2 separate regions of the Homo sapiens genome follow, and region 2 is linked to region 1. The links come from fine-mapping of genetic effects on plasma protein levels. Region 1 holds a variant in brackets. A gene starts in the other region. All regions are shown on their reverse strands.

Region 1 (8,269 bases):
TTGTGCATTCTAAAATTGTCCTAAAATGAACATCTATAATTTTTATAATCACAAAGAAATATTATTTTTAAAAGATTAGATCATATTTCTTTAGTTCCTCACAGCAAATGCCTTCATTGAGCAATAATTTAATACTCTGCCCTTTCTCTTTTTCTTGTCCTGGTATAGTTTCTGTTTCTTTTTTGAAAACATCTCCTAAAGGCATTCTGTTTTATGAGGTTCAATACCAATGCCCCTTGACTTACGGTGGGGTTACATCCCAATAAACTCATCGTAAGTTGAAAACATTCTAAGTAGAAAATGCATTTAATACACCTAACCTACTGAACACCACAGCCTAGCCTAGTCTATCTTAAATGTGCTCAGAACACTTCCATTAGTCTATAGTTGGGCAAAATCATCTAACACAAATCTACTGTATAATAAAGTATTGGATACCTCATATAATTTACCAAATATGTACCAAAAGTGAAAACCAGGTTGGTTGCAATGGGTACTATGATAGAGTTGAAAAATCTTAAGTCAAACGATCTTAAATCGGAGATCGTCTGTATATCTTTTTGAAATGTCTTTAAGTTTGCTTCCAGAAAAAAACACTTTCTCCTTTTCCTGACTAATAAAAAGCTGTGCATCTTTTGATCATACAAAGACAGCTATGGATCACTTTAAGGTTCCACTTTTGCCTTGAGGACAAAAGGAAGCTCAGAACTGGATTTAATGCTACATCACAGCACACAATCATTTCCCTAAGTTTCTGGTATATTGCATGTGCTTTGTAAGGGCAGAGACTGAGCTGTGTTTGTCTCTGTATTTTCAGCACGCCTTGTACTTTACCTGGTAGTAACAGTACCATTTGTTGAGTGCTTAATACAGGAGAGGCACCATATAAGCATTTTATACACATTACTTCATGTAGCCTTCCTAACAACCCTACTGGGTAGGGACTACAATAATCTCTGCTGGTAGAATATTTACTTATTATATGGATATGAATGAATTAATGGATACAGTAAATGCCTCTTGATCTTCCTTTTTTTTTTTTTCACCCAGGCTGGAGTGCAGTGGTGGGATCTTGGCTCACTGCCACCTCTGCCTCCCAGGTTCAGGCAATTCTCCTGCCTCAGCCTCCCAAGTAGCTGGGATTACAGGTGTCCGCCACCATGCCTGGCTAATTTTTGTATTTTTAGTAAAGACGTGGTTTCGCCATTTTGGACAGGGCTGGTCTCGAACTCCTGACCTCAAGTGATCCGCCCTCCTTGGCCTCCTAAAGTTCTGGGATTACAGGCATGACCCACTGCACCCAGCCCCTCCTGATCTTCTTTTATCTTTATATTAAGGTTATCACATAAATGTCTTTTAAAAAAAATCAAATCATATCCTCTGTAGAAAAGGCCAAGGAGATCGTGATGTACATTTTTGTGTCTTACCTGCCTAGAATCCTTTCTCCTTTCTTCACTGTACACTGCATCTTGATTTCCCTTTCAAGAGCCAACCTTTTCCAATTCTCAGTCTATGTGGTTTGTGGAGGGCTGAACATACACAAGCACATGCATATACACACAGAGACACACAGACACACACCCCTACCCCTGGGAAGGTTACATGCCTCAGGCCTGACCAATCAATAATTTCGTGATGACATCAATTGAGTCCCTGAATCCAGGGCCCAGAATAACCTGAACTCAGTTCTCATCCCAGACTTTTCTATAATAGAACCCAATATATTTTCTTTTATATTTAAGGCAGTTTGCATTGGGCTTTCAGTTACTTTTAACCAAAAGAATCCTGTCTAGTGTAGAAAATAATTATTTTTAAAAAGTGAATATAGGACTTCTACTTCTGGCAACATGGAAGACTAAGATGTCTAGGGAAACACTCCTGGTATATACACCCAAAAAATCTTGATAAAAAGTTTTTTTTTTTTAAATCTCTTGGCTGGGCGCTGTGGCTCACACCCGTAATCCCAGCACTTTGAGAGGCCAAGGTAGGTGGATCACCTAAGGTCAGGAGTTCAAGACCAGCCTGACCAACATGGTGAAACCCCGTTTCTACTAAAAATACAAAAATTAGCAGGGCATGGTGGCAGGCGCCTATAATCCCAGCTACTAGGGAGAAGCTGAGGCAGAAGAATCACTTGAACCCAGGAGGTGGAGGTTGCAGTGAGCTGAGATCGCACCATTGCACTCCAGCCTGGGCAACAAGAGCAAAACTCCATCTCAAAAAAAAAAAAATTTTTTAAATGGATGGCTTAGCCGACAGGAAAGTAAAAGAAGTCTTCTTCATGAAGGAACAACAAGAAAACACTAATCTAGATAACATAATTACCAGACATAGAGTATAAAATAAGTATGCTTAATATGCTTAAATAAAAGAAGACCTCAAATGAATGACAAAGAAACAAGAATGACAGAGAGATCTGGGTCACTGTAGGCATCTCATAGCAATGGTGCAAACCAGATGACAAGGGAATAATACCTTCAAATGTCAAACTACCAATGTAGAATTATATACCCAGCAAAACTTTCATGAACAAGAGCAAAATAAAAACATTTTCAGATAAAGAAAACTGAGGACTAACAATAGACCTCTCTACAGCAATTAATACATGATGTATTTCAGGAAGAAGGAGAAGAATCCCAGAAAGGTCTCTGACTCAGGAAAGAATAGTGAGCAGAGAAAATGGTAAACTTGTGGATAAATCTGAACAAATAAATACTGCATTTTTAGCTATTCTAATTTGTTGGTTTAAAAGCAAGACAGAATTAAAATATTGGAGCAAAATGGCATACAAATTAGGAGAGAAGATGATCAATACTAAAGCATTCTATGGTCCATAGTTAATATTTAATTTTAGACTTTGTTGAGTTAAATATGTACTTTAAAATTTACCACTAAGGTTAGAAATAGATAATATAACTACTAAATTAGTAGAGAGGAAAAAAATGGAATGAGGGGAAAAGCCTCTATCGACTCAAAAAGCAGTAGGAAAAAAGAGGGGGAAAACACCAAAAAAGCATAACAAATGAAAACATAAAATAAGACAGCACTATCAAATCCAAAAGCATCAGTAAGCACAATAAATGTAAGTGGATATAACTATCTTGTTAAAAGTTAATGATTGTCAGTTTGGATTTTTCTTTTTAAATGGAGTCTTGTTCTGTCGCCCAGGCTGGAGTACAGTGGTGCAATCTTGGCTCACTGCAACCTCCAGCCTCCTGGGTTCAAGTAATTCTCCTGCCTCAGCCTCCCAAGTAGCTGGGACTACAGACACCCACCACCACGCCCAGCTAATTTTTCTATTTTTAGTACAGACAGGTTTTCACCATGTTGGCCAGGCTAATCTCGAACTCCTGACCTCAAGTGATCCACCCACCTCGGCCTTCCAAAGTGTTGAGATTATAGGCGTGAGCCACCACTCCTGGCCTGGATTTTTTTTTAATGACAACACAAAATCGAGCAACATACTATTCAAAGACACACCAAAAACATATGGACACAGAATGAGTGAAAGAAAAAGGTATCAGGAAAATACTAACCGAAATTGAACATGTTCTGTGGATTTGAAGTACTGGAGTACTGACTCAAGAAAGAATGCCACTCTGATGTTCTCAAGATGGATCTAATAAGAATTCATAAAATATCCACAACTTTGTTGGGGAAACAAAATAAACATCAGTCTAATGTCCTACTCCCTTCTGCAACCCTAGCAAGACATACTTTTGCTTAATTACCTGTTTAGAACCACTTTGAGGCTGGGCATGGTGGCTCACGCCTATAATCCCAGCACTTTGGGAGGCCAACACGGGCAGATCTCCTGAGGTCAGGAGTCTGAGACCAGCCTGGCCAACATAGTGAAACCCCGTGTCTACTAAAAATACAAAAATTAGCTGGGTGTGGTGGCGCTTGCCTATAATCCCAGCTACTCGGGAGGCTGAGGCAGGAGAATGGCTTGAACCCAGGAGGTGGAGGTTGCAGTGAGCCAAGATCGCACCATTGTACTCCAGCCTGGGCAACATAGCAAGACTCCATCTCAAAAAAAAAAAAAAAAAGAACGACTTCGAGACTCTTTGCCATCCCAGCACCCAAATCCTGACCCCTGAACTCAGACACACATCTGCAATTATAGTATTAACAAGCCTAAAACCAGAGCAAGTCAAGAAATAAAAACACCATGCTTTCCTTGACCAATGGTTCACAGTTCTTCTGCCCTGGTAGAGAATGGCTGGTGTTCACACATATGGGATTCCTGTCATAGATAGACCTGAAGAAATGTCCAGCCCTGAGGGCACTGTCTGTTACTCCACTCTCTCTTCTACTAAATATCAGAATGCAAATGAGAATGATGTTACAGTGATCATCTCAAGTTCCCCGTATTCTATGGAAACTAAAACTTTTTGCAAATTTTGGTACAACATTACTAATAACCATTTCCTTGTGACACACCACTCAGTTGACTATGATGTCATCACTGGCTTGAACTACATTTGACCTGTTATTAATCCTTACTTTCTCTAGTTCTGGTATTCTCCACACCCTCCAAAACACTCACCCTAAATCTTCTGACTCAGAAATCCACAGGCTCTAGGCCAGTAGCTTTCACCCGTGGTTGCATATCAGATTCAGCCTAGGTCCTAGCCACAGATATTCTGATTTCATTGTTTTGGGGAAGATTCCTGGCATCAATATATTTTTTAAAGTTCCCCAGGGCCACACACCCAACTATCTGTCTCCCCACTTTGACCCGCTATCATCTCAGAGTAAAAATTCACCTTCTTTGCTGAGATGCTAGTCATACTATACTACTATGCTTACTGACTTACTTACTATACTTATTTATATTAATATATATTAATACTTACTATGTTACCATGCAAGGAAGGATTCCTAGTCATCATTAGCCTCCTCTTCAATTCAGTGCTGTAACTAACAAAACTATACTCGAATCCACTGGCATGTAAATTATTAGATTCATAGAGGGGCCCAGGTCTATACTGGCTCTCACAGAATTAGGACCAGTACTCTAAAATGTCTTTTTAGTGGTCTGGCCTTCTTCAAGAAGGCAGACACAGTGCCACACCCTGCTGACACCAGGAAGAGTCAAACCAAGTGGTCCCTTAGTCATTCCCAACTCCTTTCCTCTGATAAAAGGCACTGCAGAGTAAAGACTTTCATTAAAAGTCTAGGAGGCACAGCAAAATGTTAACAATGGTTCTCCCTGAGTGGTAGGTTTATTGGGGATTTTCATTTTTTTCCTTTTCTGTTTCTCTGTGCATGCCAACATTTCTAGAGTGAATATGCATTGCTTTCATAATTAAAATAAACATAGAAATAATCATCCCCACCCAAAAAGGGAGGAACGAGTAACAGATATGGACTGTGGCTCTGCCTGAGATGTGCTATGTGACCTGGGGGTGTGGCTTTTCCTCTCTGGTTAGACTAGATGCTCCTCCCTCAGGGCCCTCCCTCCTGCAACATTCAAGGACCCTCATTATCCCTCTGTTTATTAGACTCGCAGAGAACCCCATACCCACACTGTGAACTTATGATCTGCCATTCAGGTTTCTCAGGCAAAATCTCAAGACCCTGATTAGCTCCTGGATGAACTGTAATAAAAGTGAGATGCCACAAAATACCCTGACCCTACTGACCACTCTGAAGTTACATCTCAAAGCCTGGCCCAACAGAGACCCACACAGCTCAGGCTCACCTTTCTCTCTGGCTGGGTAAGAATAACCCAACAGGCCTTGCTGCAGGAATTAGAAGCAGGAGGCATTCACACTCCTTATCATGCTGGGTTTGGCTTAACTTCCAGGGTCAATGCAACAGCAGGATCTACAAGCAAATCCTGAGAGGACACAGGGCAGCTGCGTCACCATGGAGACAGGTTACCATAAGCCCCACAGATTGTCCACAGTGTTTCAAAGAGATATTCACAACCTGCGACAATAAAGGAAGTTGGATCCAGGAAAGAAAAACTACAACCAATCCCTGGATGACTCTCAAAAGCAACCTCTTGAGTACATTCTTGGCAACAGGGAAAGGTGAAAAAACTAAGATTTAAGCACACAGTGTGCTCCCAGGTATTGATGCTTTATTAATTCCTAAGTTGTGTTCTTTCCACTCACTTTTATGTAGAATGCATGGAGACTCACTTTTATGAGTTTCCTATTTCGCAAACGAAGGGAAACCAAGGCTCTGAGAGGCTAAGCAGCTTGCCAGAGATCACAGAAGTGACGAGCAAAAGAACCAGGATTTTATCTCCCCTGGGCTGGATTTAATCTGAAGCTGGGTATAACCTGAAAGCTTCCCCTCCACCTTGCCTCAGCGGGCACCCTCGGGGTTTCGAGGAGCTAAACATGCGTTAGGCTGGTGAGTGGAGGAACTACTATCAATCCCAACAAAGTTTTATTCAAAAAGACTAACAGTGAAAAATGCCTCAGGCAGAAGCATGAGGCTAGGCATGAGGAGATCCCCAAAACAGGGAAGACAGTGGAAACAGTGGGGCAGAGGTGGGGCATCCTCATTCCATCATTCATGGTCTCTCTGGCCAAGGTACCATGGAGCAGGCCCCTAAAATCCTGAGATCAGCATGGTGCCAAGTGGGCCAGAAGGGCCATAGTCCCTCCAGACCAGTCCTACCACATTCCAGCTGAGGGGCCTTGGGTGGGTCACCTATCCTTTCCGAACCTATTTCCACACCTGTAAAGCAGGAATGGCTTGAAGGGGAGAGGAGTGGCAGGTGCCTGGTGCACACGGCAGGCTGCCACCACCAGCTCCAATGGGAACCCCCTCTCTGAGTCCTCTTTTCCTCAAAGTCTGTAAGGAAGGGGCTCAAAAAAGGACTTGGAAGATCCCTGACACTTCGAAGAAAAAGTGAGAGCCCGGGAGGCCCAGCGGCAAAGGTGGCAGCAGCCACCTGTCCTTCCTCCTGCTGCCAGCGTGTGCCCTGGATCCCCACCTAGGCAGGGGCGCAACCTGCCCAGCCAGTAGCTCCAACAGGAACTAGGCCTCTGACCACGCTGGCTCCAGTCCAGCACCACCCACAGGAGTGAGCTGGGGTGGATCACGGCCAGAAGGAGCCCTTCCCACCCCGTGCCCCTTCCCGCCTTCCTCCACCCAAAGCTCAGAAATCCAATGCCCAGGGAGAGCACAAGGAGGCTTTCTAGCGCTGAGGGGGCCTTACAGCCATCTTTCGCTTCACCTGTGGGGCGCTCCCTCGCATCTTGTTTGTCCCTTAGGCCCTGGCACACACAGAGAATGAATGGAGCCGGTCACCGCCCGGAGGAGTTGTCAGTTTCGCGGAGGCACTGCGAGGCGGGCAGAGCGGGGTTGTCCTTTGGGTGCTGGGGGGTCCTCGCCTTAAACCCTTCTGCTTAGCCCTGACCCTCACCTTTTCAGGGAGATGATAACTTCTCAAGGAGAAGGGAGCTAAGAGATCACTAACAGACTTGCCAATTTCTGGTAATTTTTTTTCTACTTTCGTCTTTTTTACTTTCTTGCCTCCCCGCCCCCATGTGAGCTCTTACACTATCGTCTTCGGAGAAAGACTCAATAAGACGCGCCATCCTGGAGACCCCAGCTCCCCGCCCTGCCACTGCTCTGATGGAGAAACTGAGGCCCGGGGCTCTGAGGGCGGGCTTCCTCCCCAGAGCTGTGCACTCACAGCGGGTTCCAGCGC[T/A]CGGGCAGGCGGCGGTGCAGTGAGATGCGGTCGCTGAGGTAGATGTTAATCTGGTGCAGCCGCACGCTCTCCTCCTGCAGCCGCAGCTCCTCGCCCTGCAGCTGCAGCCGCACCGCCTCGCCCCGCGCGCCCAGCGCGTTCGCCGGCACCGGCGGCCGCGGCATGACCGGCTCGCGCCGCCCGGGGCGCGGGGTGCGCGGGGGTCCCGGCTCGGCAGCCCCGGCCCCGGCCCCACGCTGCGCCCGCAGCACCGAGCCCAGCCCGGCCAACGCCAGTAGCGCCAGGAGCACCAACAGCGCCTCCCGGCCGCGCCGCAGTTCCCGCGGGCAGCGCCGCCGCGCCGTGCGCCCCCACATGCGCCCGCCAACTGCAGCCAGCGATCTGCGCGCCCCAAGGCGGCGGTGGAGGCCAGGACCCGGATCCCGGAACCGCCGTGCCGCCCCGCCCCCGGCCCGCCCCACCTGCGCGCCGCCCCCTTTCCGTCCAGCCCCGCGCCAGCCCAAGCGCAGCCCCCGGGGTGGCTCATTTCGGCAGGGTCTTCAAGTGGGCTGGCTGAGACTTGCATCTTCCTTCTTGGGCTATGGTGCATTA
Region 2 (8,279 bases), not on the chromosome of region 1:
GTCCCCTGCTGTGTGAAAAGTGATCATCAGTGTGTGTAAATAAATCACTGGATTACAGCAATCTTAATGGCTTGGCATTATCCCCTAGAAACTTACCATATTCACAAGACTGCTGTAAATCAGAAATTATTCGAAGGATATTATTCATTAAATTTGATCTTTGCTCATTTTCTAGAATGCTGCCAGTTGATGGGTATGCTGAATCGATGTATGTTAAATCTGACAAATAGATACCTGAAATACAATTAGATAAATGAACGTTTTCTTAGTTGTAGGTTGGGAGACTATGACAAAGAAAAGGGGGGAAGGGGTTGTTTATAGATATATTCCACTGTACGCTACATTTAAAATATATTGCTATTAATACACTGAAGCCTGGGTAACATATGGTTACTGGGGCCTAGCTTTCCATACAGTTGGGGTCAGACATATACCAATTTTTTGTAATAATATGCTATTTTGTAAATGTCTTCTTGTGATTTCATTTTCAAGTATAGTTTGAGGCTAGAGTTAGAAACTCCAGCACATATGGGAATTAATGGAAAGGAGCTGAGTTCTTCAATTGGCTCTGCCTCTGACTAGTTTCATAATGGAGAGTTATTTTAAACTGAGAACCTCAGACTTAAAACCTATGCAAGTATCCATTTTCCAAGGTGTGTTACAACTTGAAGATATTAATTTAGCCAGCAGCCCAGCCACTGACTGACATAGGGAAATTATTTAATATTTGTTTTTACTCTCTTGCCTTGAGTTGATAGCTATCATTTGAGTCTTAACTACTTTGAAAATTATCTCAATCTGGTAGAAATGTTTTACATTTTAAAGATCAACAAATAAATTTCTGAAATGGTTCATGTGACTACAAATTGAAGTTAACTATTTCTTACCCTCCATGCTTTTTGTACCAACAAAAATAACACATCCTCTAAAATTTGGTTGTACTAGTCCTTAACATGAAAGGTCACTTATTTAAGTTTATTTCTGGAGAGTTCACAATGCACATGTGAAATGTATTAGACAACTATAGCTGGAGAGAAAAGAAAAACATACCTTCCTACTTTTACCCCATTACTTCATGTTCATGTACTCTCAGGGTAAATGCAACCAAAATGACATACCCACTGCCTTCTAAATAAACCCTGTTTTTACTCAGCTTTTTCTTATACCTAAAATGTTTTCTGGACTTATCTCTGCCTATCCAAATCTTATATTTTGCTTATCTAATTCGGTGTCAATATTCTCTAGTTTTCTCACAGATTCCAAGAAAGGAATTCAGACACTGTCTAGTCTAATCCTCTCCTTTTATAGATGAAGAACCTGAAATACATAGATAGTAAAGGGACCTGTCTAATGCCATGCAACCTGTTAGTGACAGCTGGATCTCAGACGTTTCACTTATAGCCCAATTTAAAAAAAAATTACTTATATTCTATTAAAAAATCATACATTATGTGTGCTTACTATTCACTTAATGACTTTTATGACTTCAAAATCTCATTACTTATTTTTTTTACATTTATATCTTATCTATTCAAGACTGCAAACTCATTTAAGGCAGTTGCTCTATCTTGCACTCCAAGAGAAAGAAAATCTTGTGCAATGTTTTGACAATAGGTGCTTAACATAAAAGGTTGGCATGGCAATCTTTTTACTCATCCTAGTATCATTCATTTTCCACTCAGTAAATCTTTACAGTATTCTTTAAGTCACCTATCATACTTTTTTTTCTTTAGATAACCTCAACTTTATTTCCCTATGACTCCAAATGAATCTTGAGGTTCCAAATGAAGCTGAGGTTCTTCCCACTTTCCCCAATCTTGGAGGAAGAATCATCTCTCTCTTCTTCCGAAATCTCAACTGTAATTTTGAATGCAATCGTTGCTGCCTCCTTCCAGACAACCACTGTTGCCTCTACTATCATTCACCCCTACTGGCTCCTTCCCCAGAGCCAGTATACATATTTTTTTTTAAACCATTTTTTTTTTCAAGAAAGAGTCTTGCTCTGTCACAGGCTGGAATGCAGTGGTGCGATCTCGGCTCACTGCCACCTCTGCCTTCTGGGTTCAAGTGATTCTTGTGCCTCAGCCACCCGAATAGCTGAGATGACAGGCATGCGCAACCACGCCTGGGTAGTTCTTGCATTTTTAGTAGAGATGGGGTTTCACCATGTTGGCCAGGCTGGTCTCGAACTCCTGGTCTCAAGTGATCCACCCGCCTCAGCCTCCCAAAGTGCTAGGATTACAGGCATGAGCCACTGCACCTGGCCCAATATACATGTTTAAATCTCCCCTACTTATAAAACAAAATCTAAGCAACTCTTCCTTCAAATCTGATCCCACGCCTCAAGATAACATCCTTGTCCTCCCTTCAACAAACACCTTGGAAGAGAAACATACAATAGTACACTTCTTTTATTCTTCGTTCTATTTTTAATGTAATATTTGATACACATGTGTCAGGAAAATTGTGAAAAACTTTGAGATGGGAAAAAAGATTACTGGGTATCCTGTCTCCAGTGCACCCATTTGGTCCTTCTGAGCTATTTTACAACTCTGCACAGCTGTTGAAAACTGGTAATACAAATTATTGTCCATAAACATGCCAAAGAATTATGTCCAGTGGGATCTAATCAGTGATGACCAATTTTGCAACTATTTGTAAATTTACTTCAGCGTTCCTGATTGCATATATGTGTGTTACTTTGAATTCTCCCTTGACACATTTTTGATTCCCTTATAAATTTAATAATTTAAATGAAAATTCTGACACATATTCATTTCATATTTGTGTGAGAATCGTGATTTCACAAAAATTATTGCCGGGAACGGTGGCTCATGCCTGTAATCTCAGCACTTCGGGAGGCTGAGGCGGGCAGACTGCTTAGGAGTTTGAGACCAGTCTGGGCAACATGGTGAGACTCCTGCCCTAAGAAAAAATTATCAACACATGTGACACTTGTTGTTATCAAACAACATAATAAACATTTGTGAAAGACCAGTCAACTTATGACTACAACATCCCTAAGGAGAGCTAAAAGATTCCTCAAGGAAATGGCACGGGGATGTTGGCATATGTACATCAATAACAGCAATAGAAGATATAAAAAAGTAGCACAGAAAAGTTTAAACAGGAGTTTCATAAGAATTCTGTGCAAAAAAATGTCATTCCTTGCTGATGGGATCAGAGAAAGCTTCAAGGAAGAAGTGGGATTTGAGCGGGGTACTAATGTGCCAGTTCTTGCCATTCTTCCATCTTATTAAACTCAGATGACAACTCGCCTGTAGTCACTCGCTATACTGTGCTGTCCAATATAACCACTTGCCACATGTGACTACTGTTTCGTGGGTCTATTCTGAATTGAGGTGTATTTGAATATAAAATAGACAAGATTTTGAAGAGTTAACATGAAAAATTAATGTAAAATATCTATTAACTTTTTTATTGGTTACATGTTAATATTTTAATATGTTGGGGTAAACTACTTTAAAAAAGAACTACGACATCATCAATACTGTTGCATCTATCTGTATGTTCCTTCTCTACTTCATCTCCTTGCTTCCTGTCCAGAAGTAACCATTACCTTGAACTTTAAGATCATTCCCTTATTTTTTCCCCGACATTTGTCTGTATTCCTACTTTTGCCTATTTTTGAGCTTTAAAAATCATATTTTATTGTATGTGTGGATTAAATAATAGTATTTGTAATGTTAGAAAAGTGTCTAGTATGGGAGGCTGAGGCAGGAGAATGGCGAGAACCCAGGAGGCGGAGCTTGTAGTGAGCCGAGATCGTACCACTGCACTCCCGCTTGGGTGACAGAGCAAGACTCCGTCTCAAAAAAAAAGTGTCTAGTACATACCAAGTGATTTATAAGCATTTATTAAATAAAATTTAAAAATATGGTCTTCTGTGGTTGCTTCGTCTATTTTGTTTCTAAGACTTGTCCACGCTGTTAAATGCTGCTGTAATTCCTTATAATGAGAACAAGCTAATGTGTGACAATTGTAACTCATCCATTTTATTTGATAGACTTTTGAGTTACTCCCATCCCACCCCCAACCATGTTGCTATAGACATTCTTATACACATCTCCCAGTACACATGTACAAAATTTCTTCAGGATATACAAACATGCCTAGGAGCAAAACTGCCAAGTGCTAAAGTATATTAATATTCAACTTTACAAGATGGTGTCACATTATTTTTCAAAGCTGTATCAATTCATACTCCCACTCACGGTATATAAGCTTCTGTTGATCCACATTTGTGCTAACAATTGGTATTATCCATCTCAATTTTGCCAATCTTCTGAGTATAAAATGGTATCTCTCTGTGTCTTAATTTTTATTTCCTTGATTAGTAATAAGGTTAAACGTATATATTTCTATGTAATAAATGTTTCTGTTCATTTTTTCTTTTGGGTTGTCTTTTTCTTATGGATTTCTAATTTCTTAATGTATTGTGGACACTAATTTGTCAGTTAAATTTTATCTAGTCACCCTTCAACACACTAAATAATCTGAAATCTGTATGTATCACTTATTTTGGCAATGGCATTAATAACTTTCTCATTCTAAGTCTTAAAACATCTCTCTTGGTCTCCCCTCCCTATGTAATGTCTCTGCAGTATTGTAACCATTCTCGTCTAGTTCTCAGGTTTTCCCTACCTTGAACTTTCGTATCTTCCCCCTAAGCCCCCACCATTCTTCTTTTTCCTCATGTTTCTTGTAAGCTGGTTTCCTGGAAATTGGTATCATGGTCTGTCATTAACCTTCCTTTACATTCTACATGTACTTTCTCTAGTATCTTAGTTCCATAGCTTTAGCTACTACCTAATTGCTGGTGACTTTCAAATCTCTCCATATAACTGAGCTCCTGACTTTCATTTTCAATTTAACATATCTAACCATAATCTGTCCCTAAATACCTGTCATTCCAATTTCCTACCCTGGCTAGTGATATTACTAAGTGCTCAAGTTAGAAAGCTCCAAACTGCTGAAAGTTTAAAAGCTCAGAAAGAATTTATTATCTCTTATTTTTCCCAGATTTAAGCCATTAGTGACTACAACATAATTACTGAATGCTCAAGAAACGATACATAATACAAATCAGAGGCCAGAAGCTGGCAGCACATCTGTCCCAATGTTTTTTAAAATCAGGAAGTATTACAGGAAAAATCTAAATGGCTCTTTTTTCCTGAATAATGGGAAGATCTGGCAACACTGTCTCATAATCCTTCATGGCCACAAGCACAGCTGAGAAGGTGCAGGCAGATCCCTTTAAATTAACCAAAAGGATGCCAACTTGCCATAAACTTCATTTCCCTCCAGTATCTTACTACTGATTTACTTCACTGATTTATATTACCTGCTCCATTCTTCTTGTGAGCATTTGCCTTTCTAGGCCCTTGTGTTTGCAACCTCTGGTATACCTATATATGGCATAGGAATTCAAATAAATGATTCTGTGAAAGAGGTAGAAAATAAGCTCAGACTTTAAATAAAGGATGTGGATCAACAGTGTGGCCTAACAGAAAGAGAAACACAGCACAAGCTACAGCAATAAGGAAGGGAAAGCACAGGTATGTAGAGAAAGCCCAAAAGTTTTATCTAGAAGCAGCTTACAGCAACTAGGTAATCAATGACAGAGAGTGTGGCATAATGCTTTGGCATTAGATTCAAATCCCAGTTCCACTACTTAGTACTTAAGTGCTAAGCTAAGTTACTTAAGCCTAAGTTTGTGTTTCTTCAGCTACTGAGTTATTTAACATTTCTTCAATTAATGAAATACAATAGTATAGTTGTACTCAACACTTATTCATTTCTTCCACCACCTTATTTCATAGCAGAAGAACCTTGCCAGAGGCAGGTAAAGTGATTTGTCTAAGTTCACATAGCTGGCATAGAGTCAGAGCTTCCTTGTTTTTTACTCAGTTCAGGGTTATGTTTGTTTTTAAACCACACCACATCAATTAATAACAAGAATGACCTTTTACAGAGAGGAGAGGTCATTTTGTAGAATAGGAGGATATGACATTATGTAACACCAGAATGTAATATTTAAAAGTCTTAAGCATCTGAAAGAATTTCACTTATGTTTGGTAATTATATATAAAGGCTGTTTTATCTTAAGACACATTACACAGTAAGACATAACATACTACAACAACATCAAGTTTCTTGTAAGTTTAAAACCTTCATTAGCAACTTAGTAAAATGTTTACAAATTCTTCTAGGCTATAAAGAGTATTTATTACATTATTTAGGTGGCTGCCTCCTGACAAAGTCTAGCTCTTGTTCTTTGTTAACAAAAACCAAACTCATCAGCCTGCAACTACTTCTAAGTGAAGTGGAGCACTATTTTTTTTTTCGGTATTCAACTTAAAAGATCTCTGGCCAGCAGACTAAAATGTTTGTTTTATAATTGCCCGCTGAACTATGATAGTTTGTTTCCAGATGGTGCCCTTCCTTCAACCTGCACACAATCTCTCCTTGTTCAAAACTATTCAACCTCCTGCTGATCCCACCCCCCTATTTAAGGCTACAAAGAGGAAATCCTAAGGAGATTCCCGCCCCCAGTCTCCAGCAATTTTTGGTGATGTAATATGTGGGCTGAACTTGAGTCTACTGAGAAAGAGGGAATCACTATTCAGGGGTACTGTATATACAATCTGGGTCAGCTGCAGCTGGTTACTGCATTTCTCCATGTGGCAGACAGAGCAAAGCCACAACGCTTTCTCTGCTGGATTAAAGACGGCCCACAGACCAGAACTTCCACTATACTACTTAAAATTACATAGGTGGCTTGTCAAATTCAATTGATTAGTATTGTAAAAGGAAAAAGAAGTTCCTTCTTACAGCTTGGATTCAACGGTCCAAAACAAAAATGCAGCTGCCATTAAAGTCACAGATGAACAAACTTCTACACTGATTTTTAAAATCAAGAATAAGGGCAGCAAGTTTCTGGATTCACTGAATCAACAGACACAAAAAGGTATTTAATATTTCTTTTATTTAAAAATATTATGTATAGCAAATGCATAACTATTTTATATTTGTAGTAGAAATTTCAGAATCTTTTACTAAACAAAGACCTTTGGAATATACTACAGTTTATCTCATCTGAAAAAGGTTTTATCTTGCAACTTGACATAAAAACATTAAGTACTGTGCAATGGTTAATGCATTATTTGAGGTTCAATTTAATGATGTTTAGTGTATATGATTACAGACTGATACATGCATGCCATGCTGGGTTTCTGAAAACAAGTGCTTTAGTGACAGTAGAAAGAAATTTTAACAAGTAACAGATTAAATGTATAAGGCTTACAGCACAATGATTAAAAACAAAGGAATACAAACTAAATAGTCGTGAACACAATTAGTTTCTCTTCCTGCAGCCACAGTGTGTGTGCTGAAGATATACATAAACTGTTGGATTTCTCAGTGTAGTCATAAAACAAAGCTAAGATACAAAAATAGTTGAAAGTCTTTGCAACAAAATCTCAATTACAGTATAACCAAATATTAAGCAGAAATTCTTGTACAGATTTAAGATTAATCTATGGCATTTCTTGTTCCAACTCAAAATTTTAAATAGCTTTCCAGGCTTACATGTAATAGTAATTTAATTTGGATGACAGAAATTAAACTTGCTACAAATGGAATCACTTGGAAAAGCTAAGTTATTGATATACACACAAAAGCATTATGTAAGTGGTATTAACAATAGAAAATAAGAACCCAGAAGATGTAATTAAATTCATGACTAAAAGGCCAAAAATATGTAATATTTTAGGTAGAAATAATTTTGTTAAGCACACATAAGAGGTTTCCTTCAATATTCTATCTGGGAGCTTTTTTTACATGCATTATAAAAACTATTAAAGATAAAATTACTCGTTACCAATAGTATGCCTTAAACCAAAGACACTTAAGTTTGTTAGATTTGGGGCTCCTTTAGCCTTGTAAAAATTAAAGATATTAATGGTTAAGAATCTTGAACAAGCAAATAATGGTAAAGCTAAAATTTTTTCCAACTTTGCTTTTGTGTCCTTTCCTTAAAGATTTAAAACTGTAAATGCTGGCAGGATTTCTGTTAAACACATATTTTACAAGAAATTCTAACAAAATTTCCAAGCAACAGTGGATCTGAAATACTGTCATCTCTCTTTTTTGTTGTTGCATGCTATGGGAAGTGCAGGACTTCATTAAGCCTCAGTTCTTACTGACGCTGTCTTAAGGCAGGCATTTAATCTGAACCCCAAATTACACAGATAACT

Which allele goes with the higher level. Alleles are on the strand shown, and positions count from the first base shown. The strength of an association depends on the size of the effect and on how common the allele is.
For the plasma level of the protein whose gene starts at base 6,655 in region 2, allele T in region 1 goes with a higher level than allele A (weak association).

Evidence for each region. A credible set is the group of variants that fine-mapping cannot tell apart. PIP is the chance, under the fine-mapping model, that this variant and not a neighbour inherited with it causes the effect. The UK Biobank Pharma Proteomics Project read protein levels with antibody pairs (Olink). The fine-mapping took linkage between variants from a reference panel, not from the people measured, so its PIPs are less certain.
Region 2: it holds the start of ANGPTL1, and the variant in region 1 is the best candidate, but not a certain one, in a credible set for the plasma level of the ANGPTL1 protein (UK Biobank, PIP 0.71).

Annotation. Positions count from the first base shown.
Region 1 is chr9:98,807,464-98,815,732 of GRCh38, reverse strand. It overlaps GALNT12 (polypeptide N-acetylgalactosaminyltransferase 12), which reads right to left and starts at 8,063. Exons shown (of 10, transcript NM_024642.5): 1 at 7,664-8,063. The coding sequence starts at 8,034. It overlaps LOC124902229 (a long non-coding RNA gene), which reads left to right and starts at 8,153. Exons shown (of 2, transcript XR_007061689.1): 1 at 8,153-8,269. RefSeq lists silencers at 7,922-7,991, 8,092-8,181. The variant T/A (reference allele first, on the strand shown) is at 7,679.
Region 2 is chr1:178,869,453-178,877,731 of GRCh38, reverse strand. ANGPTL1 (angiopoietin like 1) reads left to right here and starts at 6,655. Exons shown (of 6, transcript NM_004673.4): 1 at 6,655-6,991. It overlaps RALGPS2 (Ral GEF with PH domain and SH3 binding motif 2), which reads right to left. Exons shown (of 20, transcript NM_152663.5): 9 at 97-234.